Linked DNA regions of Homo sapiens: region 2 is linked to region 1. The links come from fine-mapping of genetic effects on gene expression. A gene starts in region 1. The other region holds a variant in brackets. All regions are shown on one strand. Distances are from middle to middle. Region 1 holds the start of SEC22C (SEC22 homolog C, vesicle trafficking protein). Region 2 holds the start of VIPR1-AS1 (VIPR1 antisense RNA 1).

What was found.
Region 2: its variant is fine-mapped to the expression of SEC22C in lymphoblastoid cells (GTEx, PIP above 0.99).

What each region holds. Positions count from the first base shown.
Region 1 is chr3:42,575,075-42,591,340 of GRCh38, forward strand. SEC22C (SEC22 homolog C, vesicle trafficking protein) reads right to left here and starts at 6,893. Exons shown (of 7, transcript NM_032970.4): 1 at 6,772-6,893. SS18L2 (SS18 like 2) reads left to right here and starts at 15,786. Exons shown (of 3, transcript NM_001370300.1): 1 at 15,786-15,892. The coding sequence starts at 15,824. RefSeq lists enhancers at 6,360-7,186, 7,179-7,308 and a silencer at 6,649-6,978.
Region 2 is chr3:42,526,237-42,539,504 of GRCh38, forward strand. It overlaps VIPR1 (vasoactive intestinal peptide receptor 1), which reads left to right. Exons shown (of 13, transcript NM_004624.4): 5 at 1,157-1,260; 6 at 1,755-1,887; 7 at 4,543-4,696; 8 at 5,235-5,295; 9 at 5,567-5,633; 10 at 6,006-6,097; 11 at 8,739-8,868; 12 at 9,107-9,148; 13 at 9,854-11,332. The coding sequence ends at 10,045. VIPR1-AS1 (VIPR1 antisense RNA 1) reads right to left here and starts at 6,370. Exons shown (of 3, transcript NR_046654.1): 1 at 6,328-6,370; 2 at 5,785-5,859; 3 at 4,660-4,722. RefSeq lists an enhancer at 7,143-7,644. The variant C/A (reference allele first, on the strand shown) is at 3,697.

The DNA of each region.
Region 1 (16,266 bases):
TGGTCTCAAGCAATCCTCCCATCTCAGCTTCCCAAAGTACTGGGATTACAGGCATGAGCCACTAGGCCTGGCCTAAAATGTAATTATTTTAAAATGTTCAAATTACCCACAAGAAGTCAAGGAAAAGAAAACAGAGAAATAACAACAATGGCAACAACAAACAGAACAAACACAAAACAAAAAAGGGCAGACTTATTCCCTAATATATATCAATGATTACATTAAATGTAAATGGTCTAAATATGACAATTGCCAAAACAGAGACTGACAGTAGATAAAAGACATGACCCAATTATATACTATCTACATGAAATTCACTTCCAGTATAACAATATAGGTAGGTTGAAAGTAAATGGATGGAAAAAATATAGCATGCAAACATTAATCAAAAGAAGCAAGAGTTATATTATCATCAGATAGACTTCAGAGTGAAGAAAATGTCCAGGAACAAAGAAGGATATTACATAATGATAAAAGAATAAGTCCACTAAGAAGGCATAATAATCCTGAATGTGTTTGCACCAAACTTCAAAGATGTAAATAAGTGAAGCAAAAACTCATAAAGTGAAAGGAGGAACAGACAAATCCATAGTTATAGCTGGAGACTTCAATCAACTGCACCTCAAAAATTGATAAGACAAGTAAACAGAAATCAGCAAAGATTTACAAAAAGAACTAGAAAACACTATCAACTAAAGGATATAATCATGATTTATAATATTGCATCCAACAACAGAAGAATTCCTTTGAAGACCCCACAGAATAGGCTGGACACAATGGCTCATACCTGTAATCTCAGCCCTCTGGGAGGCCGAGGTGGGAGGATTGCTGAGGACAGGAGTTTAAGTCAAGAAACCACAGAATGTCTACCAAGATAGACCATATCCTGGACTATAAGACAAAACTCAATAAATTTAAAATAATTTATACAAAGTGTGTTATATGACCACAGTGTAATCAAATTATAAATTAATAACAGAAAGGTAAAGAAAACCTCCAAACACTTGAAAATTAAACACACACTTTAAAACAATCCGTAAGTTAAAAAGGAAATATAAAGGAAATTAAAAAAATACATTGAACTAGATGAAAATGAAAATATATCAAAATTTGTGTCACACAGCTAAAACAGTACCGAGAGGGAAATCCATAGCACTAAATGCTTACATTCCAAAAGAAGAAAAGTCTCAAAACAGTAATTTAAGCTCACAAGTCAAGAAATTAGAAGAAGAGCAAAATAAACTTAAATCACAAACATGGAAGGAAATAATAGGATAGAAATCAATGAAATGGAAAATTTTAAAAACAGAGAAAAATCAATGAAACAAAAAGTTGGTCCTTTGGACAGAGTGATACTTCATCTAAAAAAAATTACATTTCTATATACGAACAATGAACATATAGAAACCAAAATTTAAATACCATTTATAATCACTCTAAAAAATAATATCAATAAAGCTATAATTTTTTAAATAAAATACTTAGATATAAATCTAACAAAACATATACAGAACTTGTATGCTGAAAACTACAAAATATTCCTGAAATCAAAGTGCTAAATAAATGGGGAGATATATCATGTTTTATGGATTGGAAGAGTCAACAAAGCAAAGATGTCAATTCTCCCCCAAACTGATATACAGGTTTAATACAACTACTGAAAAAAAAAAATAAGCAAGCGAGTTTGTGGCTATAGATAAGATTATTCTAAAATGCGTATGAAAAGGCAAAGAAACTAAAATAGCTAAAGCAATTCTGAAAAAAGAATAAAATAGGAAAAACCATGCTATCCTACTTCAAGACTTATTATATAGCTATAGTAATCAAGATTGTGTGGTATTGTTGGAGGAATAGACATAGATCAATGAAACAGAATACAGAACCCAAAAATATACTTACATAAGTATATCTAACTGATTTTTTACAAAGTGCAAAAGTAATTTAAGGGAGGAAGGGTAGTCTTTTCTATAAATAGTGCCGGGAGTAAAAAGAAAGAATCTTGACCTAAACCTCACATCTTACATAAAAATTAACTAAAAATTTATCATAGATATAAATATGAAAAATAAAACTATAAAACTGGAAGAAAACATAGGAGGAAATCTTCAGGACCTATGACTTGGTGAGGAGCTCTTAGATATGACACCAAAAGCATAATCCATAAGATAATTCGGAAAACTGGACTGCAACAAAATTGAACACTTTTCAATTTTGCTTCTCTAGGAAAGCCCATGTGAAGAGGATGAAAAGACAAGCTAGAAATTGGGAGAAAATATCTGTAAACCACATATCTGATAAGCAACTCAAATCTAGAATGTATAAAGAACTCTTGAAATTCAACAGTGAAAAAACACAAACAATCCAATTTTAAAATGGGAAAAACACACATACAGACATTTCACAAAGAGGATATATGGATGGCAAATCAGAGCATGAAAAGATATTGAGCTATTATGAAAATGCAACTTGAGACCCCAATGAGATAATACTACCTACCCATCAGAACAGCTAAAATGATAAATAGTGACAGTATCAAACACTGGCAAGCATGGAGACAAACTGGATCTCTCATGCATTACTGGACTGTAAAATGGTATACTCTAGAAAAGTCTGGGCCAGGCGCAGTGGCTCATGCCTGTAATCCCAGCACTTTGGCAGGCTGAGGTGAGTGGATCACCTGAGGTTAAGGGTTCGAGACCAGCCTGGCCAACACGGTGAAACCCCATCTCTACTAAAAATGCAAAAATTAGCTAGGCATGGTGGTGGGCACCTATAATCCCAGCTACTTGGGAGGCTGAGGCAGGAGAATCACTTGAACCTGGGAGGCGGAGGTTGCAGTGCGCCAAGACTGCACCATTGCACTCCAGCCTGGACAACAGAATGAAATTTCATCTCAAAAAAAAAAACAAAAACAAAACACAGTTTGGCAGTTTCTTTTAAAACTAAACATGCAATTATTGTACAATCTACCAATCACACTCCTGACATTTATCCCAGAGAAATAAAAATTTGTGTCTACACGAAAACCTCTGTACAATTGCTCATTGCAGCTTTATTTATAACAACCAAACCTGAAAACAACCAAAATGTCCTACAAATAGTGAATGGTTAAACAAACCGCAGTATATTCATTCCATGGAATACTACTCAGCAAAGAAGAAGAATAAACTATGGTCCTGGTACACAGAACAACTTGAATGGATCTCAAGTGCATTATGCTTGGTTATAAAAAGCCCGTATCAAAAGGTTATATACAATATGCATCCTTTTACGTAACATTCTTGAAATGACAAAATTATAGAAATGGAGGGCTGATAAACAGTTGTCAGAGGTTAGGGATGGTAGAGAGGAAGGGAATGGGTGTGACTATGAATGAACAGCCAAAGGCATCTGGTGATGGAATAATTCTGTATCTTGATTGCGGTGATGATTACAGGAATCTACACACGATAAAGTGACAGTACTACACACACACACACACACACACACACACACACTTTATACCAACATCAATTTCCTGGAGTTGCTGTTTACTAGAATTATATAATATGTAATCAATGGGGAAAACTAGGTGAAGGGTACATGAGACTTCTCTGTACTATATTTGCAAATTCCTGCAACTATAATTATCTTAAAATAAAAGCTGGAAAAAAGTATTAACTTAAGATCCTCATGTACTGGTTACTTAAATTATGCTAATACTTTTTTGTTTAAATATAATTTTTAAATATCCCCACCAATATCTTATCTGCTAATTAACTGTAATTTTGATGTTTTATGCATGAACACTGAAGGGCACACTTTATAGTGAATAGCTCCTTTACTACATCACATTTCTAAACTGGAAGGTACTATAATCTCAGGACTCTTTGAAATAAAGCTGCTCAAAGACAACTAGTATTCAACTTAAAACAGGAAAGCGGCTGGGTGCAGTGGCTCATGCCTGTAATCCCAGCACTTTGGGAGGCAGAGGCAGGTGGATCACCTGAGGTCGGGAGTTCGAGAACAGCCTGACCAACATGGAGAAACCCCGTCTCTACTAAAAATACAAAATTAGCTAGGTATGGTGGTACATGCCTGTAATCCCAGCTATTCAGAAGGCTGAGGCAGGAGAGTCACTTGAACCCAGGAGGCAGAGGTTGCAGTCAGCTGAGATTGTGCCATCACACTCCAGCCTGGGCAACAAGAGCAAAACTCCATCTCAAAACAAAACAAAACAAAACAAAACAAAAAACTAGGAAAGCAGGCTGAGCATGGTGGCTCATACCTGTCATCCCAGCATTTTGGGAGGCTGAGGCGGGAGGACTGCTTGAGTCCAAGAATTTGAGACCAGCCTGGGCAACACAATGACACCCCATCTCTACAAAAAAAAAAAAAAAAAGCCAGGCATGGTGGCACACACCTGTGGTCCCAGCTACTTGGGAGTCTGAAGTGGGAGGATCACTTGAGCTCAGGAGGTCAAGGCTGCGTGAGCTGCGACTGCATCACCGCACTCCAGCCTGGGCAACAAAGTGAGACCCTGTCTCAAAAAACAAAAAAAAAAAAAAGAAAAGAAAAAAGAAAAGAAAAGAAAATCAATTCCACAAGGACAAAGGCAGCTTCAGAATGTTCATACAAGAGACACTGGAATGTCTTCCAGATCTTACCAGATCCTTCCACAAGGCAGTGGATGTCATAACCTACCACCTTGCCTGGTACATATTAGGAAGCACTCAGTAAACACTGCTAAGTTAAATGAATGAATGACCTAAGGGCTGCCTTATTTTTGCTCACTGAAACAAGAAATGCAGGTTTACAGATCCCTTGCCATAGTTCTGATCTACAGTTTGAACACTTTTCCACAATAAATCTGTATTTGGAGAGAAAAAGAGAAAGGTTTATACAGATGAAATTTGTCTAAAAGTAGAGTGAAGTAGTAATCAAATACACAGCATCCGTGTTACTAGGTTTTATAAAAACATATTTTAATTTGCCTCCCTTATTTCCTAAATCTTCTTCCCAGCATCTGTTTATAAACTGCTCATGTCATAGATTATCTCTGTTCTATTAACAAAGACTTTATGCCTATGCTGCAGGCTACCCTTGATCCTGTTTTTTCTTCCACCTTTTACCCTTAACCCCTCCTCAAGCCCCTACCACATGCACTGAGAGAGAGAGAGGCTGAGAGAGACAGAAAGAAAGAGAAAAACAGAGAGAAAGAGAGAGATGACTGCACCTTGCAAAATAGGAATTTAGACAAAACAGGCTTCATTTGGCACACAAATATTCAAACACAAAGTGTTCACCATAAAGTATATACAGAATACAGAAGACTCAAATACACAATACAGAAGACAAAACTGAGTTGTGCCACCCTTACTGAATTCACCTTCAGCCACAGGACTTGAGAACTGGTTACCAAATCTGTAGATTCTATTAAGGCTCCAAGTTGCTTGGGGATGGAGTGAAGAGGAGGGTAGAGGTCAGTTTCGTCATTTGTTAGGAACTAAGAGGGGTAGGGAACTAAACTTGATAGGACCTTTTACACTGATAATGTTATTAAATGCTTGTAACTATAAGGTAGACATAATCTATACCGGATAGGTGGGAAAACTGCAGCTGTAAGGCTCAAGAGGTAAAGCTAGATTCAACCCAGACTTCCTTACTTCAAATATTCTAAAGCCTAGGATCTTTCCACCACATCCTTCTTCTACAAATCCAACTTTGGGAATTACAGCTACTCCCTTTCTCTAAAATAATTTCTTCTCCTTAGAGCACTAATAAGCTAATCAGAGACCTGTTGGTAGAGGAAGGAGCCTGAGATTACACTTGTTACAACTGCTCTTTATCCACTGTATTACCTTGAAGTCAGGTTGTCCTCTCTATGATCATGTTACTTTTTGAATTTAGTTGATTTCTAAGTTATTCTAAGAATAAAAAACACTGACTCCAAGATGGCTTCTGTTGCAAATGCAAACACTTAAATCAGAGCTATTAACATTGTCCAAAATGTACTTTCCAGAGGAAACACTATTTGTTTATTTAATTCTATCTGGCAACGTTAAACCATTTCCAGTTGCTTCCATTTTTCATTTTACTAAAATTATCTTTAGTGGGATCAACTCTTCTCTGCAAAATGTAATTAAATATTACCCTATATGTTGGTTCTGAGCTGTATTTTTTTCTGACCATGTCACAAATTTCACCAATTACTTTTCACACTGGCAATAGTCTTCCGTGGCTTTTATTTCTACAAACCTAATTTTTCCCCGAGTGCTTTATCCTTCTGGCTCTGGAGGTACATGTGTAAATCTGTAATGAACACAAAACCTGTAATGGAACGTCCTACACCTAGTGCTCTGAAAAGTTGGTTCAGTGTATCCAATATTTAAAGTCTAATAACACGGGCATGCTAAGGGAAGTTTGCTATTCAGATTAAACAATGCTCTGACGTGAGCTTCGTGAATGGTTAAAGAAACAATCGTCCCCTTTCTCACTCCCCATCTCTTCCAACTGGGAGAAGCCCTTGGCGCCCATCTGTCAGCCCAGGGTTCCTGCAGGCGCGTGCCTTGGGTGGCCCCGGGGTCCGGGAACAGGCTGACGGGAGAAAGGGGACAGAGGACTCCAAGAAGCCCAGTGAAGCCCCGTGGGGAGCCCCATGGTCAAGGCCGGGACTGAGGGCCGGGTGGGCCCTGGGCCGCCTCCACCTCTGGGCCCGCCCTGCGCCACACCCTAACCCGCCTGCTCTTGGCTAACGGGCCGCGGCACCCGCCTCCGCCCGCCAGCCCTCACCTCGCCCGGACGGCGGCCTTCGGAAGTCGGCGCCTGCCAGCTACCCGCCGCCTCCTCAGCAATCTTAGCCGACCGGGAGGGCTCGGCCCAGGTCACCGGCAGCCCAGGCGCAGGTAGGCCGTGGTGCGCGTGCGCGAGTCTTGAGCCACCCCACCTCCCCCCTACCCCGCATTCGCTGCTGCTAAGCGACACCCGCACCCAAACCGACCAATCCCGGCGCGCCTCCACAGCCCCCGTCCCGGCGAAGGCGCGAACGTAGTGGTTCTTAAAGGGCTGCGACCCAAACGGAGAGGGAGTGTGACGGGGGCGCGCGCCTCCCAACTTTCTTCCCACCTCCCGGCTCTCACCGCGGCGGTTTGAGATCCAAGCCTGTAATTCTCACGTCCGGAGGTGAGAAGGAGCCTTCGTGATCTAAGCTCGATTCCTGCCGGGGTAGCAACCGGACTGACGTCTGGAGGCGGGGAGGCTCCGCGTGACAGAGTGATAACGCCCGGGGCGTATGTTCTGCGGTCCGCGCGGCTGGGCGGGAGGCCCGAGATAGGCAAACCAAAGAGCACAACCTACTGCCAGCCTGGATGGGGCGCCAAAGTCCGACCCAGGGGGACACACCCCAAGCTGGGGACCGAGGCACCCACAGATGGATGACTGGCTGGAAGGAGATTAGGTAGGTAGCAGAGTCCGTCCATTTATTCATTTAGCAAGTATTGAGCACCTGCTATGTGCCAGGGGTTGTGGACAAAGCGAGGAATTCCTGACACGAAAAACTATGTTAAGAGAGGAGGCAGGGTGAGAGCACCCTTCAAACAATCAAACACCTGTATAAATACAAACTGCTCTTCAGGGAGGAGCAGGGGTTTTGGGAGAATTTACAGAAGCTTCTAGGCTGGTGTTGGGAATCACAGGAGGCTAACTAGGCAAAGGGGAGAGGAAGTGTGTTTCAGATGGAGAGATTAGCATGTATATAAGAACTCTGTGGAAGGCAGCAGAGCTCCTTTGAGGGATGAAAAGAAACCCAGAAAGGGGGAAATGGAAAGTTAGTGCTTAATAGGTACAGAATTTCAGCTGGAGAAGATGAAACAGTTCTGGAAATGGATAGTAGTGATGATCACACAACAATGTGAATGTACCAAATGCCACAGATCTGCACACTTAAAAATGGTTATGTACATTTTACCACAAAAAGAAAAGAAACTCAGAGTTTAGAGAATAAAGGAGTGGAGTGAGATCCACTAGAGCGAATAGAAGGGGCAGGACCATGTAGGATTTTATGGACCATAGTGGAAAGTTTAGGACCATAGAACACTGGTCAAAATTGCATTTTATAAAACTCACTTTGGCTGCTAAAGTGCAGATCAAAATGGAGAAGTCTCAACAGAGCTATGGTGGGACTGGCCTGGGAGCCAGTGCAGTCATCTGGGCAAGAGAGAATGGAGCTGGAGTGTGGACTAGGGTGAGAGTGAAGAAAAAGAGATCTAAGAAGGCTGCAGAGAAATGTAGGAGCAAAATCAATAGGACTTGGTGATGAGTTGGATGTGAAGGGGCGATGAAGCAGCTTCAAGGATGATGCCACTGTTCAGCCTTGGATAAATGGATGGATGGTGCAGGGATTCACAGATATGGAGAACACTGGAAGAGGAGATAAGATTGATCTTGAGCTCCATCTTAGACAAGTTGAATTTGAGGCACCTTTGAGACTTGGTTAGGATTTTGCGATGATTAGTTTTAGATGTCAACCTGACTAGGTTAAGGGATACTCAGGTAGCTGGGGGAACATTACTTCTGGGTATGTCTATGAGGGTGTTCCCAGAAGATATTGGCATTTAAGTCAATGGACTGAGTAAGGAAGATCTGTCCTCATCTAATATGCGCAGGCACCACATAATAGAACAAAAAGGCAGAGGAAAGGCAAATTCTCTACTCTGGAGTTGGGACACCCCTCTTCTGCCCTTGGCATCAGAATTCCCCGTTCCCCTAATCTCCTAACTCTAGGAGATTAGGTAGTAGAGTCCGTCCATTTATTCATTTAGCAAGTATTGAGCCTTTGGACTCCAAGACTTGTACCAGTGGTTCCCCAGGTTCTCCCGGCTTGGGCCTTGGACTGGGAGATACACCATTCAGCTTCCCTGGTTCTGAGGCCAAGTCTAAGACAGGGTAGTCTTGAACTGAAGCAGTCTACCAGCCTCCCTGGTTCTCCAGCTTGTAGATGGTCTATTGTGGGACTTCTCAGCCTCCATAACTATGTGAGCCAGTTCCCCTAATAAATCCCCTCCCATATATCTATAGATATAGATCTATATTGTAGATATATAGATATCACATTGGTTCTCTCTCTCTGGAGAACCTTGACTAATACAGATGTCAACACAGCAGGTGCATATACAGGTTGCAGGTCAATGTAGAGGTCTGGGCTGAACACAGACTTTTTTTGAGGCTGAGTCTCACTCTGTGGCCTAGGTTGGAGTTTAGTGGCACAATCTCGGCCCACTGCAACCTGCGCCTCCCAGGCTCAAGTGATTCTTCTGCCTCAGCCTCCCAAGTAGCTGGGATTACAAGCATCTGCCAACACGCCCAGCTAATTTTTGTATTTTTAGTAGAGATGGGGGTTTCACCATATTGGCCAGTTTGGTCTCGAAATCCTGGCCTCAAGTGATCTGCCCGCCTTGGCCTCCCTAAGTGCTGGGATTACAGGCGTGAGCCACCACGCCTAGCCGGGACATAGACTTTTGAAAGTCAGCATCATATGGGCGGAAATCGAAGTGGGGCTTACATAGCCAGAGAAAAATTACAAAATGAAAACTGAAGAGAATTGTGATACAGTCTAAGATAGCCTCCAGGGTTCACCACCTCCTGGGATTTATACCCTTGTGTAGTCCCCTCCCACAATGAGTCTCTGATAATGAGGGTAGGTCATAACAGGCACAAAGAAGGAGAAAAACCAGGAGATTCAGGGTTGGTAAAGGCAATTGAAAACCCTGTAGCATAAGTGCTCTTCAAATATGGGGAATTGGGGCCAGGTGTGGTGGCTCACACCTATAATCCCAGCACTTTGGGAGGCCAAGGTGGGTGGATCACGAGGTCAGGGACCAGCCTGTCCAACATGGCAAAACCCCGTCTCTATTGAAAAATTACAAAAATTAGCCGGGCGTGATGGTGGACATCTGTGATCCCAGCTACTTGGGAGGCTGAGGCAGGAGAATCACTTGAACCTGGGAGGAGGAGGCTGCAGTAAGCCGAGATCGCACCATTGCACTCCAGCCTGACCTACAAGAGCGAAACTCCATCTCAAAAAACAAACAAAACAAAACAAAACAAACAAACAAATATGGGGAATTGGGCTCTCAAAACTTGTGGTGCGAGTGCTTTAGAACAGGACCTTACACTCTCTGACTGGTGCAACTGGTGTGGTTCAGGCACCATGGTAGATTGGACAACAGGGGTGAGATGTAGTACCTAAAGTCCTAGCTCTCATCTCCAATCATTGTTCACTTTGGCTCCAGGTTCACAGTCAACTCCAGAGTCTTTCTCTTCCAGTCCTCTTCAGTCCTCCACTCCTAGGGTAACACCCTGGACCACAGAAGAGCTCCACCTCTGAAGTTATAAATGCAGACACCTGATCTTTCATCTGTCCTTCTGCTATTCTCTGAATTCCTTTCATGGTTTCTCTAGCCTGCAGAAACTTCCAGTTCATTTGTCCCTCTACTTTGTTTTATTTATAAGCTCCATCGAGTCTTCATTTCCTTCCCCATCAGCTGAGAGTTCAGGGTTTATCACCTCCATCACATTCTTCCCAATATACTTATATTCCTTGCACAGTTATCTTTCTGGCATAACTAGAAGGATAGTAACACCCATCTGGCAGCACTACAATCCTGGAAGAATCCAACCTTCTGTCTTCTCTGAATCTGCTTCTTGGCTCTAAGTGCTGCTGGACAAAATCTCACAACCACACAGATCAGTGCTACATACATTGTCAACTTCAACTAGGTCCTCAACACCTTTCAGCGCTCCTATTTGCCAAGGCAGCTCTCTCTCCAGCTCTCCCCCAAAATCAACTTCCAAATATCCTGCATGCTCCCCAGATCTCCCACTCTTCAACCCCCCCTCCCCCGCTTGCTCTCCCAGGAACCTCCGTTACTGAAGAAAGAGCAACCATCAAAGTGATGTCCCTTAGCTCCAGACAACTCCTCTCCTTCCAGCTACCACCTTCTTTCCCCTCTCCCCTTTACAACCAAACCTCATGGAAAAAGTGGTCTATATGTGAACACTCCATTGCTTCACCTTCACCTTTCATTATTTCTCAGTCCCCTGCAGTTCTGATACCTGTTTCACCATATCACTGAAAATGCCCTCCTCAAAGACCTAGTCTTTATTCTTCCTTGTTCTTTTGTTGTTGTTGTTGAGACAGAGTCTCGCTCTGTCACCCAGGCTGGAGTGCAATGGCACTGAGGCTTACTGCAACCTCTGCCTGCCGGATTCAAGTGATCCTCCAGCCTCAGCCTCCCAAGTAGCTGGGACTACAGGCCTGTGCCACCATGCCTGGCTAATTTTTGTATTTTTAGTAGAGACAGGGTTTCAACATGTTAGCCAGGCTGGTCTCAAACTCCTGACCTCAAGTGATCTGCCTACCTCGGCCTCCCAAAGTGCTGGCATTACAGGTGTGAGCCACTGCACCCACCCCTTCCTTGACCTTTCAACAGCATTTGTCATTGCTGTCCTGTATGTCCTTTTCAGTCACTGTTTAAAAAAAAAAAAAAAGCCATAACCCCCACTCTCCTGGTTTTCCTCTTCCTATATCTCTAGTCTCTTTCTCCCCTCAGTCTCCATTGCAGCTTCTTTTCCTCTGCCATAAGAGAAACTATCACATTCTCCTTAGGCAGTCTTATCCACTACATAGTTCCAGTCAGTTTCTACAAGTGATGTTTCTCAAAGCTGTATCTCCAACCTAGCCTTTGTCCCTGAGTTTCAGCCCCAAATAGCCACAAGCCTCAACATCGTTTGACATCACCTCACACTGTACATTTCCACAACTGAATATATCACCTTCATTTCCATTCCAGCATCTCCCCCACTGTTCCCTGCCTACATAAGGGGCATCACCAGTTTCTCAGTTGCTTAACCCAGAACCCCAGAAGGCATCCCTAATTTCCCTTTTCTTTCCCTCCCCACTTGATCACTAAGGCCTGCCAAATCTACTTCTAATGTCTTTCAAATGCACACACTTCTTTTCTCATTGCTCCCACTATCTCTGGCCTGCATGCTTGTAGCAGCCTTGTCACTGTTCTTTTTGTTTCTCATCTGGGCGTCTTCCCTAACTTTCACCATGTTACAGCCAATAAAACTCTAAATGCATCTCAGGCTTCATCATTCTTCTGCCTAAAACCATCCATGGCTCCCATTACTCCTAGGAGAGTACAGAATCTGGACACCTGTGTCCTGCTTAACCTCCACTTTGCCTTTATACTGCCTTTATAAACCTTTTCTTCTGGAGGTCTTTCCCTGTATGCTGGAACAGGTTGGTCCCCTATAACACCTGCCTCACCCTAACACCATCTCATTTTTTTTTACCTGATAGAAACTTTAATGATGTTAAAAAACCAATCAGTCCAGGTGCGGTGGCTCACGCCTGTAATCCCAGCACTTTGGGAGGCCGAGGCAGGCGGATCACGAGGTCAGGAAATCGAGACCATCCTGGCTAACACAGTGGAACCCCGTCTCTACTGAAAAAAAAAAAATACAAAAAATTAGCCGGGCGTGATGGCGAGCGCCTGTAGTCCCAGCTACTGGGGAAGCTGAGGCAGGAGAATGGCATGAACCTGGGAGGCGGAGCTTGCAGTGAGCCGAGATCGTGCCACAGCACTCCAGCCTGGGCGACAGAGCGAGACTCCGTCTCAAAAAAAAAAAAAATCAAATCCTTATATAAACCTCACTCAAAACCTTCGCTTTAGGCCAGGCTCTGTGGCTCACACCTGTAATCTTAGCATTTTGGGAGGCTGAGGTGGGTGGTTCACCTGAGGTCAGGAGTTCAAGACCAGCCTGACCAACATGGTAAAAACCCCCATCTCTACCAAAAACACAAAATTAGCTGGGCGTGGTGGTGCATGCCTGTAATCCTGGCCACTTGGGAGGCTGAGGCAGGAGAATTGCTGGAACCCCGGAGGTGGAGGTTGCAGTGAGCCGAGATTGCACCATTGCACTCCAGCCTGGGCAACAAGAGTGAAACTGTCTCAAAAAAACAAAAACAAAAACAACAATAACAACAACAACAACAAAAACCGGGGCCAGGCACGGTGGCTCACGCCTGTAATCCCAGCACTTTGGGAGGCCGAGGCAGACAGATCATGAGGTCAGGAGTTCAAGACCAGCCTGGCCAACATAGAGAAACCCCATCTCTACTAAAAATACAAAAAAATTAGCTGGGCATGGTGGCTTATGCCTGTAGTCCCAGACTACTCGGGAGGCTGAGGCAGGAGAATTGCTTGAACCTGGGAGGTGGAGGTTACAGTGAGCTGAGATTGCACCAATGCACTCCAGCTTGGGCAACAGAATAAGACTTTGTATCAAAAAACAACAACAACAAAAAAACCCCTTCACTTTATTCCTCAAAACATGTATGTCCCAGTTCCCTCCATTTCAGAGCCATAAACATAAAGCCTACAGGTAAGATACTTAATACCCAGGACAGATCTTTGTGTGTATATATACATACCATATGTAGCATTATGTTATATAGTATTATATAAATTACATGAAATTTTGCATAAGATTGGTAAGCAAGTCACTTAAACTTTATGAACAAAAGTATAGGCCGGGCATGGTGGTTCATGCCCATAATCCCAGGGAAGCTTTCACAGGTGGGAGGATTGTTGTCTGGACCATCTCATGTTATTGTCATTCCTCACTTGTCTAAACAGGAATAGGGCTGAGTGGAACTACGGAAGACCTGTATCCTGCTCCTGATGTTTCCTTTTCTGCCCACTCTGTGTCTCTGAAAGCTTTGGGGAATTTTCCTGAGGAGGAAGCCTGATGTGGAGTTAACAGTGCAGGCTTGGTAACCAGGAAGCCCTGAGTCCGCCCCAGCTCAGGTGTTACCTCACTTCTCTCACCGGGTTTACCTCTCTGTGAAATGGGATGAAAGCAGGCCGGGCACAGTAGCTCACACCTGTAATCCCAGCACTTTTGGAGGCCGAAGCGGGCGGATCACGAGGTCAGGAGTTCAAGACTAGCCTGACCAATATGGTGAAACCCCATGTCTACTAAAGATACAAAAAAAAAAATTAGCCGGGTGTGGTGGCAGGCACCTGTAATTCCAGCTACTCAGCAGGCTGAGGCAGGAGAATCGCTTGAACCCGGGAGGCAGAGGTTGCAGTGAGCCGAGATCACACCACTGCACTCCAGCCTGGGTGACAGAGCGAGACTCTGTCTCAAAAAAAAAAGAAAAAAGAAATGGGATGAAAGCTGCCTTTTCACAGGTTTGAATAAAGGGATTGTGGAGAGAAAGCCCAGTAAAGCAGATGAGCTTGCTCAGGATCAGGGCCACCACTCAGGGGAATAAAGCTCTAGGGACCTCCCCTTTTTAGGAGTGTAGGTTCCCAAGATCTCCCTCCTAAATGAAGTGGCCGCTGCTCACTCCAGGGAAAACGAATCTTGTTACCACATCCACCACGGATGGCTAGAACAGGGGACCGGTACCGCATAGCAGGAGGTGAGCAGAGGGCGGATAAGCATTACCGCCGAGCATTCTGCCCCCTCAGATCAGCGGGGGCATTAGGATCAGCGGGAGCATTAGATTCTCACAGGAGCGTGAACCCTATTGTGAACTGGACTTGCAAGAGATCTAGGTTGCGCGCTCCTAATGAGAATCTAATGCCTGCTGATGTGAGGTAAAAGAGTTTCATACCAAAACCACCCCCACCTCCGTGGAAGACAAGAAAAATTGTCTTCCACGAAACCAATTCCTGGTGCCAAAAAGGCTGGGGACCACTGGTCTAGAAGACTACAACCAATTCAGTTGCAGTGGTCACCAGGAGTAACCATGTGGCCCAAGAAGGTATGTCCAGCTTCCTCCTTGCATCTTGCGGCACAACACCTTTGCGGTATGGTGCCTGGGCAGTCCCGGGTTGTTAAGGGTGAGAGTTCTAAAGCCAGGCTGCCCGTATTCAGAGACTGGCTTTGCTAAGGAACCTTGGGCAAGTTACTTAACCTGTTTCGTCATCTGTAAAATGGAGAAAATACCAGTGCTTTTTAGGGTTGCCAACCTAATAAGCATTATTCCTGCCCCAAATAAGTCCAGGCTATGTGGAAAAACGCGAATTTCTCGTTCAGCAAAGAGTAAAGCTAATACCAGAGTTTTCCTGGCCTGCAGATTTGGCCTGGCAGGAGACAATGCCATAGCCAATGTTCATGCTCCAGATGCAGACCTGGAGGCACAGAGTGATGTAGAGAGGACAATGGATCTGAAGCCATGTATCTGGGTGCCAGACACGCTGGGTGAAGCCGAGCAAACCGCTCCTGCAGATAGATTGAGTATGCACACCCAGCACTTTGGGAGGCCGAGGCGGGCGGATCACGAGGTCAGGAGACCGAGACCATCCTGGCTAATATGGTGAAACCCCGTCTCTACTAATACAAAAAATTAGACGGGCGTGGTGGCGGGCGCCTGTAGTCCCAGGAGGCGGAGCTTGCAGTGAGCTGAGATGCGCCACTGCACTCCAGCCTGGGCGACAGAGCGAGACTCCATCTCAAAAAAAAAAAAAGCATGCACAGCCTAACACTGGAGGTGCTGACGCCAGGTAGGTCAGCAGTAGACCCAGCCCCAACCCACAAGTTTCGCTCTCCAGACTGCGCAAGCGCAAAGGATACGAAAACGCCCCCGGCGTTCTGGGGGCTGGGACCGAGGAAAGCGCTGAGTATAGCTCTTGCGCGTCCAGTCACAAATGACGTCCCTTCTGTACCCCGCCCTGTAGGCGGGAGCATCCAATCAACTTCGAGAGCGTAGGCCCCACCTATCGTGGGTCGAGTTGCTTGGCGGTCGTGGTTCCGGAGGTTCCTCGGGATGTCGGTGGCCTTCGTACCGGACTGGCTGAGGGGCAAGGCGGAAGTCAATCAAGAGACTATCCAGCGGGTGAGCATCCACGCGGGCGGGCGGGCGGGCGGAGAGAAGTCGGGATCCCGAGGGGCTGCGGGGTGCGAGAAGCATCCTGTAGTGAGCGGCCTCCCAGCTGACTGTGAAGGGTGCTGAGCAGCCGGGGTGCGGGGTGAGATGGGCACGAAATCAGCACAGGCGCCGGGGCAGGACCCCGGCATGGGGTTCGGTCCCCCGCCGTCCAGACGTCACACTGCACTAACCCTTTCTCTCCTTTTTTTTTTTTTTTTGAGACGGAGTCCCGCTCTGTCGCCCAGGCTGGAGTGCAGTGGTGCATCTTGGCTCACTGAAACCACCGCTTCCTGGCTTCAAGCGAGTCTCCTGCCTCAGCCTCCTGAGTAGCTGGGATTACA
Region 2 (13,268 bases), 50 kb before region 1:
CCCCCAGGCTGGGCCACCCTACTGCCTCATGGGAACCTCACTTCAGCCCGGGAGTTGGCAGGGCAGGCAGACACCAGCACCCCATCCCATCCAGAGGGGAAACCGAGTTGCTGCAGGTCCTGGAAGGAACCAGACTTGGCTACCAAATAGCCAGTCAGGAACAGGGACAGAGCCTGTCATTCTCAGTCCCAGGACAGATATCTTCCCCGGAGCAGTTAAAACATGGTCTCTGTAAAGACTGGGGAGCCTGGTAAGGACATTGATGGGGAGGCTGGAGTCCTCAGCTAGGAGCCCCTCACTGCTTTGGGGTGCAAATGCATGTGTGTGTGTCTGTCTGCGATGGCATCTGCCCCACCCTCAGGCGCCCTTCTCAGACCGGGCTTTCACTCCACCCACCCCCGAGGACAGCAATTTCTTCAGAGGCCTTTGAAGCCCACTGGAGCTATAGGCCCTCATTCCCCCTTAACCACTTGCCTCTCCTCAGGCAAGCGTGGGAGGCTGACAGGAAGGAGTGGCTTGCCTAGTGGCTGTCGTGCTGCACTGCACCTGTGTCCATGGGGAGGGCATCAGGAGAGGGGACCAAGCGAGACACCCTCGGGGCCTAGCTTTGCCCTCCTCCACCGGAAAGGCCAGACTGCCCTCATCCCACCGACCCCAACTCCCAAGGGCCCAAAATGGGACATACTAGTGCCAGTGTCTTCTTCGACATCCCGCAACCTCGCATACCTCTCCTCCCTATACAGAGACAGGGCCTCGAGGGGTGTCTGAAGGGCAAGCAGACCCCACCCCTAGGGTGCCCAGCTCAGAGCTGGCACAGAAGGGAAGCCGGGCACATGGCTGGAGACATGAAATTAACAAAAGGGACGTGCAAGGTCTTCATTCTCTCCCTCACCAACTTGTCCCTCGTAAAGAAGCAAAGACAGGAAGTACATTCAACCCCCACCCCACCCTAAGACACAGTCCTGCCCTGTCTGTAGAAACCAGGGCGTTAGGGGTCAGGGGCTCAGCTGCTCTTGGGAGCCCCAGACCTCAGCCTCCTCATTTGCTGAGGCAGGGTTGGGCAGGCAGAGTGTGTAGGGCACCCCACCCCTGCCAATACCCCCTAGATGAGCCTCCCACCCCACCACCCAAGAGCCTCTCCCTGTCCCTCCAACAGCAGCAGACCATGTTCTACGGTTCTGTGAAGACCGGCTACACCATTGGCTACGGCCTGTCCCTCGCCACCCTTCTGGTCGCCACAGCTATCCTGAGCCTGTTCAGGTGAGGCCCAGCCCAAGTCACAGGCCTCAAAGCAAACCTGGCAAGTGTCCCTCCCACAGTGGAGCCCAGCGTGGCCCAGGCGTGCCCCGACCCCTCCACTGTTGCCCCCCAGCAGCACATACTCCCCAGCTCCTGCCAGGCCAGCTTCCCCTGGAGAAGGCAGGTGGCTGAGCTCTTCCATGTGTTGCAGCCTAGTCTCCCCTAGGATGGCCCTGCACCTGGGGACAGGGCACCAGAGAGTGGGGCCTGCACACAGGAATGAGGCTTCTGGGGCCACACACGAGGTTGAGGCCCTTGGGAGCCCAGTTGCACAGGTGGATGGGGTACCTGGGGGTGGGGCTCGTATTTCAGGATGGGATCCCCTTTGAGGCGGGGCCTGCCCTCTGGAGGACACATGCTCCCCTGCCCCACCCTTGCTCAGCACATAGGACAGCATTGGCTGGGGTGGGGATCCAAGGCCCCTTTGGCCTCCCAGATCTGCCCACCCCACACAGGAAGCTCCACTGCACGCGGAACTACATCCACATGCACCTCTTCATATCCTTCATCCTGAGGGCTGCCGCTGTCTTCATCAAAGACTTGGCCCTCTTCGACAGCGGGGAGTCGGACCAGTGCTCCGAGGGCTCGGTGAGGATCCTGGCCCTGGCCCACCTCCCTCAGTCTCGCCGTTATCTTTAACCACTGTAATCTCCTCTTCTCCCCCTGCTTCTCCCTCTCCCTCCTCCCTCTTCCCTCCCACCCCACCCCTCAATCCAAGGATAGCCTAACCCCCACCCAACCCCACCTGGCAGTACTCAAATCACACTCCCCTCCGGCAACAGGAGATGTTGCTCACCCATCTGGGTGCTCACAGACCTGCCGCCGCCAGTGAGAAAAGCAGATGGGAAATGGGACACTTCATGGCCACAGCCCAGAGCACCTGTCCCACCTGTTGCTAACTTCCTATGTGGCCTTGGGGAACTTACAGCCTCAGTTTCCCCATCTGTGCAAGGAATTCCAAGATTCCTTCCAACTCTGCCATCTGCCACCTGCATAGCCAGGGCTCTGCTCACCATGCCACTTTTCCTACTCCCCCCGTCCCCGTGCCATCTGGAGTGGGTCCATACATATGCAGTCCTCCTCTTTTGTTCTGATCCTGACAGCAGGCTGGTTCTGGGCCTTCCTAGGGAAGAGAGGTAAAGGGATCATCTAAGGAATTCATTGCCAGTCACTAAGGGGGCCATCTCCAAGGGATTCTTAGGGACCCTCTCTGAGTGCCCCAAGCTTTGACAGAGAGCTTGAGATCAGCCCCAGCCCCCACTCATTCCTTGTGGTCAGTAACTCATTGCTTCATGCATGACCCCAGAGGCAGTGCATTATATCAGGGGTCAGCAGTACCTTCTCCCCAAAGAGTGAAATGATCATACTGGAATCTCAGGCATTTCAACAAGGGGGAGAGAAAACCTAGGGGACCCACTTTGGCCATTCCCAGAGCTTCTCAGAGGTTCTGTCCCAGGAGCTGTGAGGCCAAGTCAGACATGAGCATTGTGAGCCACAGGACCTGTGGAGGAACCTGCTGCCTCCTGTGCACATGTTACGGATAATTATGGAGACTGGCTTCCCAATTCATTACTGCGAAGCTTTTCTAAGACTAGGAAGAAGCACAGATAACTGTCCTGGTAAAGAGCTGAGTTATGGCCAGACGCGGATTATGGCTCACGCCTGTAATCCCAGCACTTCTGGAGGCTGAGTTGGGCGGATCATGAGGTCAGGAGTTCAAGACCAGCCTGACCAACATGGTGAAACCCAGTCTCTACTAAAAATACAAAAATAAAAAAAATTAGCTGAGTGTGGTGGTCAGCACCTGTAATCCCAGCTACTCAGAAGGCTGAGGCAGAATAATCGTTTGAACCAAGGAGGCAGAGGTTGCAATGAGCCGAGATCATGCCATTGCACTCCAGCCTAGGTGACAGAGCAAGACTCCATCTCAAAAAAAAAAAAAAAAAAAAGAGTTATTCTCCAAAAGCAAATGGGAGGAAGATGGGGAGGCAAGAACTCCTGTAACTGGAGGGACTGAAGCGAGACCTGAGGAAGGACTTTCCAACCAAAGGGAGTGGTGGGGGCAGGGGGAGGCTTCTCTCTGAGGATGTCGCAAACCAAGGGTACAGGAAGGAAGGGTGGGAACCAATGTTTTGGGTACAGGGGGAAGTGGAAGCCAGACAGTTTCCTGGTGGAGGGTGGCTTTAAGCCCTGGCTGACAGACATCTAGGCTTGATCTGAAATGGGGGACTTTCTGGGAGGGGACAGAAGGCCCAGAATACCTTCCAGTCATGCCAAGTGGGCCACCCAGAGCCCTGTGATTGCTCTACTCATGGGTCTCCCTAACTCCTTCATGGTCCTCGTCTGCCTAAGAAACCCATTCTTCCACTCGGTCCTCTGAACCCCAGGAGGAATGGC[C/A]ACCCCTCCCCTCTTCTCTTCTTCTTCATTTCTACTTCCCCCTCTTCCACCCTCTTCTCAGTCCCAGTCTCCCTCCACACTTCCATCTGGGCCCCACTCCACAGTCCACAGCCCTCCACTCCCCCACATTGAGCAGACTCTTGAAACTCAAGCAAGAATTCTCCCTCATACCTTCCAGCTACCTTCAATACAAATTGGCATTAGATGAATGAGTGGGTGGGGTGGGAGTGTGGATGGGCAGGTTGGTGGATGGCTAAGTAGGCAGCAGGATAAATGGGTTAAGTAAGGAAGATTGGACAGATGATAGGCAGAGGGGCAGGTAGGTAGATATGTGGGTGGATGCACAAGTGGATTGATGGGTGGGTGCAGAGATGAATGGATGGGTAGATGACTGAGTGGGTTGGTAGAAGAATGGAGAGATAGGTGTGTGGGTGGATGGATTGATAGATGGGAAGATGATAGATGATGGATGGACACATGGATAAAAAATGGATAAATGAGTGAGTTGATAGTGAATGTCTAGTGGGTGAGTGGGTAAATAAATGGATACATGGATAGGTGGGTAGATGATTGAATGGGCAGATGGGTAGATATATAGATGGGAAGGTGAATAGATGAATTGATGGATGGATAATTAAAATCACCAGTTTATCCCGAAGTATCAGAGGATCTAAAATTAGGGAAAATGGGAAAACCAATGAGTACATTTTTAAGGGGATAATGCAAAACAACAAAGAGATTAAGTTGGCTGCACTGCAACTGTGTTTGTCCCCCCAGACACGAGTGTGGGCAGTCAAGGACCCTTGACAGCCCCAGTGAACCCCGTCTTTTCTCCTCCCCCTGCAGGTGGGCTGTAAGGCAGCCATGGTCTTTTTCCAATATTGTGTCATGGCTAACTTCTTCTGGCTGCTGGTGGAGGGCCTCTACCTGTACACCCTGCTTGCCGTCTCCTTCTTCTCTGAGCGGAAGTACTTCTGGGGGTACATACTCATCGGCTGGGGTATGGTACCAGGGAGGGCTTCCAGGCTGGGGACAGAGGGGGCAAGGCCTGGAGAACTCCCTAGGGGGAGGGTGCCAACCCAGCTTGCAGTCCTACGTCTTGCTTAGCTGCAGGTCCTGCCTGCAAGGATATCAGCCAAGGGTCAAGAAAGTCCTCAAAATGTCTGATCCCAGGACAAGTCCCTCAGGTTGCAGCTGCACCTAGGGCTGACCTGTGGGACAGATTTTGTGAACATCTTTCCATTTCCCTTTAGTTCCCGAAATACACAGGGCCACTGCTAATCTATAAAGGGCCTCTGTCACAATTAGAAAGAGAATGTCCGTCTAGGTAGACACAGCCCTTCAGGCATACAGCTTCACCCCCTCAGTGGAGCATCCCTCCGTGGTGAACAACCTATGCAACCAAAGACAGCAGACTGACAACCCACCCTTTTCTCTCTCCCTCCCTCTCCCTGCTTTTCTCCAAAATCTCTCCCTCATGCCCTCTACCCCTGCTTCCTGTGCCCTCTCTGCTCTTTCACTCTCCCTGGGCCTGACAGGGGTACCCAGCACATTCACCATGGTGTGGACCATCGCCAGGATCCATTTTGAGGATTATGGGTGAGCTGCTGCCCCACACACTCCCCCGGCCGCCATCACTTGGGCAGGCCCCCTGGGTGGGATGATAATGCCATCTGGCCTTGGTGAGTGGACAAAAACCACAGCTCTCGGGCCAGAGGGGAGGCTGGAGGAGGACCTGGGGAGCAACAGACTCTGGGCCCGGGGTTGCTAAAGTGCTCAGGAGCAGAGCTGGGGACAACTGGGGGAGGTGCTGCTGAGTCTCTCTCTGGCTGAGGACAATCCCTCTCATTCCTCCCCACGGTCTGCTCAGGTGCTGGGACACCATCAACTCCTCACTGTGGTGGATCATAAAGGGCCCCATCCTCACCTCCATCTTGGTAAGATACCCTCCCACCACCTAGAGATGGGGAAACAGGCCCAAAGGGCAGGCAACTTAGCCCAAGGTCACATGGGAAATTAGTATCTAGGTCAGAACTGAAACGTAGCTTCCTAATGCCCAATGCAGGATCATCCCCACCCCTGTCCTACCAGTTCTTCCTTGAGCGTAAGCGGATTGGGAGCACAGTCCTTAGGGATTTGAAGGAGGTAGAGTTCCCGGATGACCTGCCCAAAGGGGAAATGCCAGAGGAGAGGTAAGATAGAGAGAGGGGCAGCAGGACCCTGGGAAAGAAGACAGGCCAGCAGTCAAGGGGCCTGAACACCTCAGCCTTCCCGCTCTGACTGCCCGAACTCGGGTCCCCACCCACTAGGTAAACTTCATCCTGTTTATTTGCATCATCCGAATCCTGCTTCAGAAACTGCGGCCCCCAGATATCAGGAAGAGTGACAGCAGTCCATACTCGTGAGTGTGGGCCTAGTGCCTCAGCCCCCAGTACCTCCATCCCCAGTCCTCAAATCATCCCACATCTCCTTGAAGTCCTCCCACCCCAAACATCCAGAGTCACCAAAGAGCCACATTGTTCTTTCCCACCTCCACCATGGCCTGGCTCAGCCCACCACCATCCCCTGCTCCAGCCCCACCCTCACCAGGCTGCACTCAGAGCCCTGCATGCTTCTCCTGCCCACACTCACCTAGCATCCTTCCCAGGTATGCATCTGCTGCCAAGCCAGGGAGCTCAAGAGGACACCGATGACCTGTGTCTTGTTCATACCATGTGCCCAGTCCCTGGCATGTGCCTCACATGGAAAAAGGGTGCAATAAACACATAGTAGATGAATGCCCTGGGGGAGACCCCAGTCCACCAATGAGACAGCCATGTTCGGGACTCAGTATTCCTCAGTAATAATGATGACACCTGCAGTTTACATGCCAGGCACACGCTAAGGGATTTCCATGCATCATGTCATTTCATCCACACAGTCCCCTGCAAAATTATCTTTACTTTACAGGGAGGAAATGACATACACTCCCTTCTCCTTGAGGGTTTTGGAGCAGGTCACCATGGGCAGGGAGAAGGGGGCACAATGTCCATGGACCAGGGCTTGGAAAGGTGTCAGGACTGTTCCCCCTGCTTGGGAGGACTGGAGGAAGAGGCAGGTTTTTTTGCGGGAGCAACAAGGCTTGAAGACAGAGCTAAAGAAACATGAAAAATATGAAAAGGGAGGCTGTGGGAAGGCAAGTAGGGTCTGCATGCTCACAGATGGGAGTAGGAGATTGAGTATCAGTGCTATTGACACAAGACAAACCTGGGACGTCCCACAAGGCCTTCCAGTCCTGGGATTCTTCTTGGCCTGGCTTCTCTTTGGAGAGTCTGTGCTGTGGTTCTAAGATTCCTGGCTAGAATGTCACAGACTGCTGGATTTAGGATTCTATTCTGGAATCCTGTGATTCTCCCTGATGAGACTAAGACTCACATTCCTGGTGTGACTGCATTCTCTCCTGCCAGGTGTGTAGGCGGAGCTTCCCTTCCTGTCTGAGAAGGAAAGGCTGGGGGGGACGGGGGGGGCATCTGCAGTCTGCTGAGGGGCAGCACATCGGGCCTGTGCACCCTTATCCTCTCCTTTGCCGATGGGACCTTATTTCCCCCAACTTACAATGGTTCAAAAGGGCCTGAATCTGAGGCAAACAGAGCTGGCCATGGTCAGGGCCAGGTCTGTGTGGTGAGACAGAAAGGAAACAGTTGTCAGCAGGCAAAAGGGGTGGGGGCAGTTGGAGATGAAGCTCCTCAAGGAGAAGCTGTCAGCTCCCACTCTACACCTCCCCATAAGCCTTTGATTTAAAGAAAGCCTCCATCTGTTAGCCTCCGGTGTGTGGGATAGTTTTGCAGCCGAAGAGGGGTGGGCATTGCTCAGGATCTTGGCATGGCTGAGAACCAGGTCCAGGAAGGAGTGGGAGGGGCAAGGCCAGCTCCTCTGCCCCCAGCTTGCTGTGGGACCTCAGGCCTTGGGCTAGACTTCCTTGGACTGACTGCTAAGGCAGGAGAGACAGAGTCAGAGACCCTCCCTATCCACACCCCACCTCTCCTAGCCAGGGAGCAATGGGTTCACACTGCCTGGATCAGCTATGAGGTCAGGTGGCTGGGAGGCCTGAACCAGGAAGAGCTCTGGGCCATGGGAGGCGGGTGAGCATTTAGAATGAATGCTGACCCTACTGAGCACACAAAGCTGTGAAGAAGGAGCTGGTCCTTCAGAGCACGCTGGGAGTATATGCACTGGTGTGGGGAGGTAGGAGGAGGGGGATGCAACCCCAGAGAAGGTGGCAACTTCTGGAGAAGCAGACACAGCAGAAAAAACACAGATAGAGGGCGATACTGATTAATTTTGGGTTGTCCCTGGTGATCAGGTATGAACTTGGGTCCCCATCACCCTCCCAAGTGGCCCTGGGCATATGTGGTCAGCACCCAGTTAGAAAGACTTGTTTCCTAGTACGTCTTCTCTCATGGTCTCTCATGGATGCACTATACTTCATAGTACCCAAAACACTTCCAAGTTCATAGTGGGCCTCTGTTTCTATAATTTGACTATGTCGAGCATACACTTACTGCATTATACAAATTGGAAAAACTGAGACCAGGAGAGGAGGAACCAGAATCTCTTGTTGCCTAAGAGATTTTCTACTGCTCTTGATGGCTGAGAGCATCCTCTACTGCAATGATGAGGTAAGCCTCTCCTAGACCAGGGGGCCCAGGCAACAGAACTCCCAATAGTGGATTTCAGCTAACATGTCCCTGTTAGCATCATTCTCACTGGCCTCTCCTTTACCTCTTACCCTCTCTCCTCCAGAAGGGTGAGAATAGAGGGGGTTTCTTTCTCTCTCATGCTTCCCTCCAGGCCAGGAGGGCTGGGGGCAGAAGGGCAGAGGCACTGCAGCTGTGGAACAGGAGCAGACAAGGGCATAATATTCAGAGGAACCTACAGTCCATCCTCATACTTCCTGGTCATTGTCCCCATCTTCTGTGCCTCCAGCTGCCCCCATGCCACACCCTATCATATCCACATGTGTGGACACACATACCCATGGCCTGTCCCTCCCCTGTCTCCAGAAGGCTAGCCAGGTCCACACTCCTGCTGATCCCCCTGTTTGGAGTACACTACATCATGTTCGCCTTCTTTCCGGACAATTTTAAGCCTGAAGTGAAGATGGTCTTTGAGCTCGTCGTGGGGTCTTTCCAGGTATGGGCTGTTGACTTAAGGCTGCATTCTTCCCTGGCTTTTAAGGGAATTCAACCTGGAGTCTTGGCCCTTGCCACTGGATTCCAACCTTTTTACTGTAATAAGTATTAGATAAGCACCTACTTTGTGCTTAGCTCTTTCCTTAACCAGGGGAACACAGGGGCTGGAGCCAGGGGTGGGGCAGGGCTGGGGGCTTCTGGTCTGTCTACCTCACCTCTCCTGTCATCTTCCTTCTCAGGGTTTTGTGGTGGCTATCCTCTACTGCTTCCTCAATGGTGAGGTAAGCCCCTCCCAGTCCTTGGGGCTTAGGCAATGGAACTCCCAGGACCAGGGTCCGGAAACATTGGTGGGATATGTGCAGAGCAAGGACGGGTTAAACCTTGCTGCTCCAAGTATGGTCCTCAAACTAGTAGCACTGGTGTCACCTAGGCCCTTGTTAAAAATGCGCATCTCTGGGACCACCCCAGACCTGCTGGCTTAGAATCTGCATTTTAATAATTATTTTAAAAAACAAACAAACAGCTTTTTACTAAACCCCAGGGGGATTCCTGTGCACAACAGAGTTTGAGAAACACCTAGTTAAGTGGCTGTGTGCAGTGAGTGGGGAGGGATGAGGGCTTCCAATGAAGGTTGAGTTGCTGTGGAGCTCTGGTTACATTGCACAAAAAACCCACTCAAGTGAGCTGGAGACCCAGGATGGGAAGAATTGGAGTACAGTCACCCCTAGGCAGCATCCCTCCCTCTCCCTGGACTGTATTCTAGGATCCTCTCTGCCTCTTACCTCCTGCCATTCCAAGGCCTCCTTCTGAACCTGGCCTCAACCCAGTCCCAAGTTTGCACCGCCCGAGGCAGCATAGGGGTCCCTCCATTTTGATTTCCTAAAGAGAATAAGACTGGCTAGTTCAGAACCCTAAGTCCAGGGCAGCCCAATCAGCAGTGGAAGAGGCTCCACAGCAGTGGGCCTGACCACCTTCCCCTCTCCTAGGTGCAGGCGGAGCTGAGGCGGAAGTGGCGGCGCTGGCACCTGCAGGGCGTCCTGGGCTGGAACCCCAAATACCGGCACCCGTCGGGAGGCAGCAACGGCGCCACGTGCAGCACGCAGGTTTCCATGCTGACCCGCGTCAGCCCAGGTGCCCGCCGCTCCTCCAGCTTCCAAGCCGAAGTCTCCCTGGTCTGACCACCAGGATCCCAGGGGCCCAAGGCGGCCCCTCCCGCCCCTTCCCACTCACCCCGGCAGACGCCGGGGACAGAGGCCTGCCCGGGCGCGGCCAGCCCCGGCCCTGGGCTCGGAGGCTGCCCCCGGCCCCCTGGTCTCTGGTCCGGACACTCCTAGAGAACGCAGCCCTAGAGCCTGCCTGGAGCGTTTCTAGCAAGTGAGAGAGATGGGAGCTCCTCTCCTGGAGGATTGCAGGTGGAACTCAGTCATTAGACTCCTCCTCCAAAGGCCCCCTACGCCAATCAAGGGCAAAAAGTCTACATACTTTCATCCTGACTCTGCCCCCTGCTGGCTCTTCTGCCCAATTGGAGGAAAGCAACCGGTGGATCCTCAAACAACACTGGTGTGACCTGAGGGCAGAAAGGTTCTGCCCGGGAAGGTCACCAGCACCAACACCACGGTAGTGCCTGAAATTTCACCATTGCTGTCAAGTTCCTTTGGGTTAAGCATTACCACTCAGGCATTTGACTGAAGATGCAGCTCACTACCCTATTCTCTCTTTACGCTTAGTTATCAGCTTTTTAAAGTGGGTTATTCTGGAGTTTTTGTTTGGAGAGCACACCTATCTTAGTGGTTCCCCACCGAAGTGGACTGGCCCCTGGGTCAGTCTGGTGGGAGGACGGTGCAACCCAAGGACTGAGGGACTCTGAAGCCTCTGGGAAATGAGAAGGCAGCCACCAGCGAATGCTAGGTCTCGGACTAAGCCTACCTGCTCTCCAAGTCTCAGTGGCTTCATCTGTCAAGTGGGATCTGTCACACCAGCCATACTTATCTCTCTGTGCTGTGGAAGCAACAGGAATCAAGAGCTGCCCTCCTTGTCCACCCACCTATGTGCCAACTGTTGTAACTAGGCTCAGAGATGTGCACCCATGGGCTCTGACAGAAAGCAGATACCTCACCCTGCTACACATACAGGATTTGAACTCAGATCTGTCTGATAGGAATGTGAAAGCACGGACTCTTACTGCTAACTTTTGTGTATCGTAACCAGCCAGATCCTCTTGGTTATTTGTTTACCACTTGTATTATTAATGCCATTATCCCTGAATCCCCCTTGCCACCCCACCCTCCCTGGAGTGTGGCTGAGGAGGCCTCCATCTCATGTATCATCTGGATAGGAGCCTGCTGGTCACAGCCTCCTCTGTCTGCCCTTCACCCCAGTGGCCACTCAGCTTCCTACCCACACCTCTGCCAGAAGATCCCCTCAGGACTGCAACAGGCTTGTGCAACAATAAATGTTGGCTTGGATTGGCTTGGTTCCCCTGGTGGTTGATATTCTCATATGGCCTAAAATGGGACCAGCTTCCAACTTGGAGCCATCTTCCTCCACCCAAAGGATGGGTGATCTAATACATTACTGAAACCAGATGCCTCAACTCTTTTGGCTTTTGACAGAAATCCATATTTTCATATGAGGCATTCACAGTTCTGAGGGCCTTCAGCTCCCATCTTTTTGAGTGGTATCCTCTCTCCTCTGAGTGTGATGAAGACCAGGTCCCCATTGTGTCCCCCCACTCCTTAAATCCAGCCAAGAAAAGACCATTCTAATCTCAGATCAATACAAAACAGCTGGCAGAGCTGCCCAGGGTCCCAGAAATGGTTGAGTGTGAGTGTTTCACAGGCCGCAGACATTGCTGCAAACAAGGGTCTAGGATGACCATGTTGCAATTACCCAGGGCTCAGCTAAGAGGAGGTAGGTAGTGGACAAAACAAATGTCACCAACACAAGTTGAGTGAGCAGAGACAATATGGCACTAATAAAAAGGTTTAGACACAGAGGCAGTATGGCAAATATCATCAGTCAGCAAGAGATGTCTCCAAAGCCGTTCCCATGCTGACCTCCTTGGGTCCCACCTCCTGCAAACTTGCTAGAGGAGCAGGAGAGGGATGTCAAGCTGGTAAAATGTGGTCAGAATGGGCTGGCAAAGGCTCATATCTGCCTGCCCAGCTACTTCAATGCCTTGTCTGACCCAGTACCATTCCAGGACCCATCATCAATGACAGTTCCAACCCAGTATCCTCAGAGGCCAGAGTCAGGGGTGTTCAGGCCAGAATAGAAGTGACTGTGAGCCATGGGCAGAGGCACCCCCAGGGAAATGCCCTTTGATCAGTTGCCCAGCATATCCAGGAGTGGCACGGTCTCTCCATCTAGATTCACACTCCATGCCCTGCCCTGTGCATGGTCAGCCATAGGATCGAGAAGGAGGCGCTGTTCCTAACCTTGACCTCAGGTACCCCCAGGCCTGCTAGAGAGAACATTGTCAGTAGCCCCCACCCCTGCCCAGACCAACAGTGGTGACCACCAGTGAGGTACTGGTGGTGGAGAGCTGAGCTGGGGCATCTAGAACTTCTTTCATTCTTCCCTGAGCGTCTTTTTTTTTTTTTTTTTGAGATGGAGTCTCGCTCTGTCGCCCAGGCTGGAGTGCAAGTGGTGTGATCTTGGCTCACTGCGACCTCCACCTCTCAGGTTCAAGCAGTTCTCCTGCCTCAGCCTCCTGAGTAGCTGGGACTACAGGCATGCACCACCACGCCTGGCTCATTTTTGTATTTTTAGTAGAGATGAGGTTTTGCCATGTTGGCCAGGCTGGTCTTGAACTCCGGACCTCAGGTGATCCGCCCACCTCGGCCTCTCAAAGTGCTGGAATTACAGGTGTAAGCCACGGCACCCAGTCTACTGACCCTGGGCATCTTGCATTCCCGCCACTCCAAGGCATAGGAGTTGAGAGACAGGGGACAGACAGTCTGTCCATGTTCCCCTCATCCAATTGGGGCATGCCACTCTCTCTCTCTCTCTCTCTCCCTCTCTCTCTCTGGTTTCCCTCCTCCCACTCCCTACTTGGTGCCACTCTGAACTGCTTCCAGAGACCCTGTCCACCCCATACTTCTCAGTAAGGTCCAGAAGACCCAGCCCTTGTCATTTAATCCCAATTCTGCTTCAGACTTTCTCAGAGATCATGGGCAGGTCTCCTCCTGATTATGAATCTCTCCATCCACCTGCACAATAGGGAGTGTTCTAGATGACTTTGCTTAGTCCCTGGCTAAGGCACAGATGATTAATGACGAGGGGCTGCCCAGAGCCTTCTGCCACCCACTCTGCCCCCCTGGGCTCAGGGGAAGGACAGCAGCTGGTGGGAGGAGCCCCAAGAAGTTGGGGGCTAAGGCATACACAGAGGATGGAGGCTGT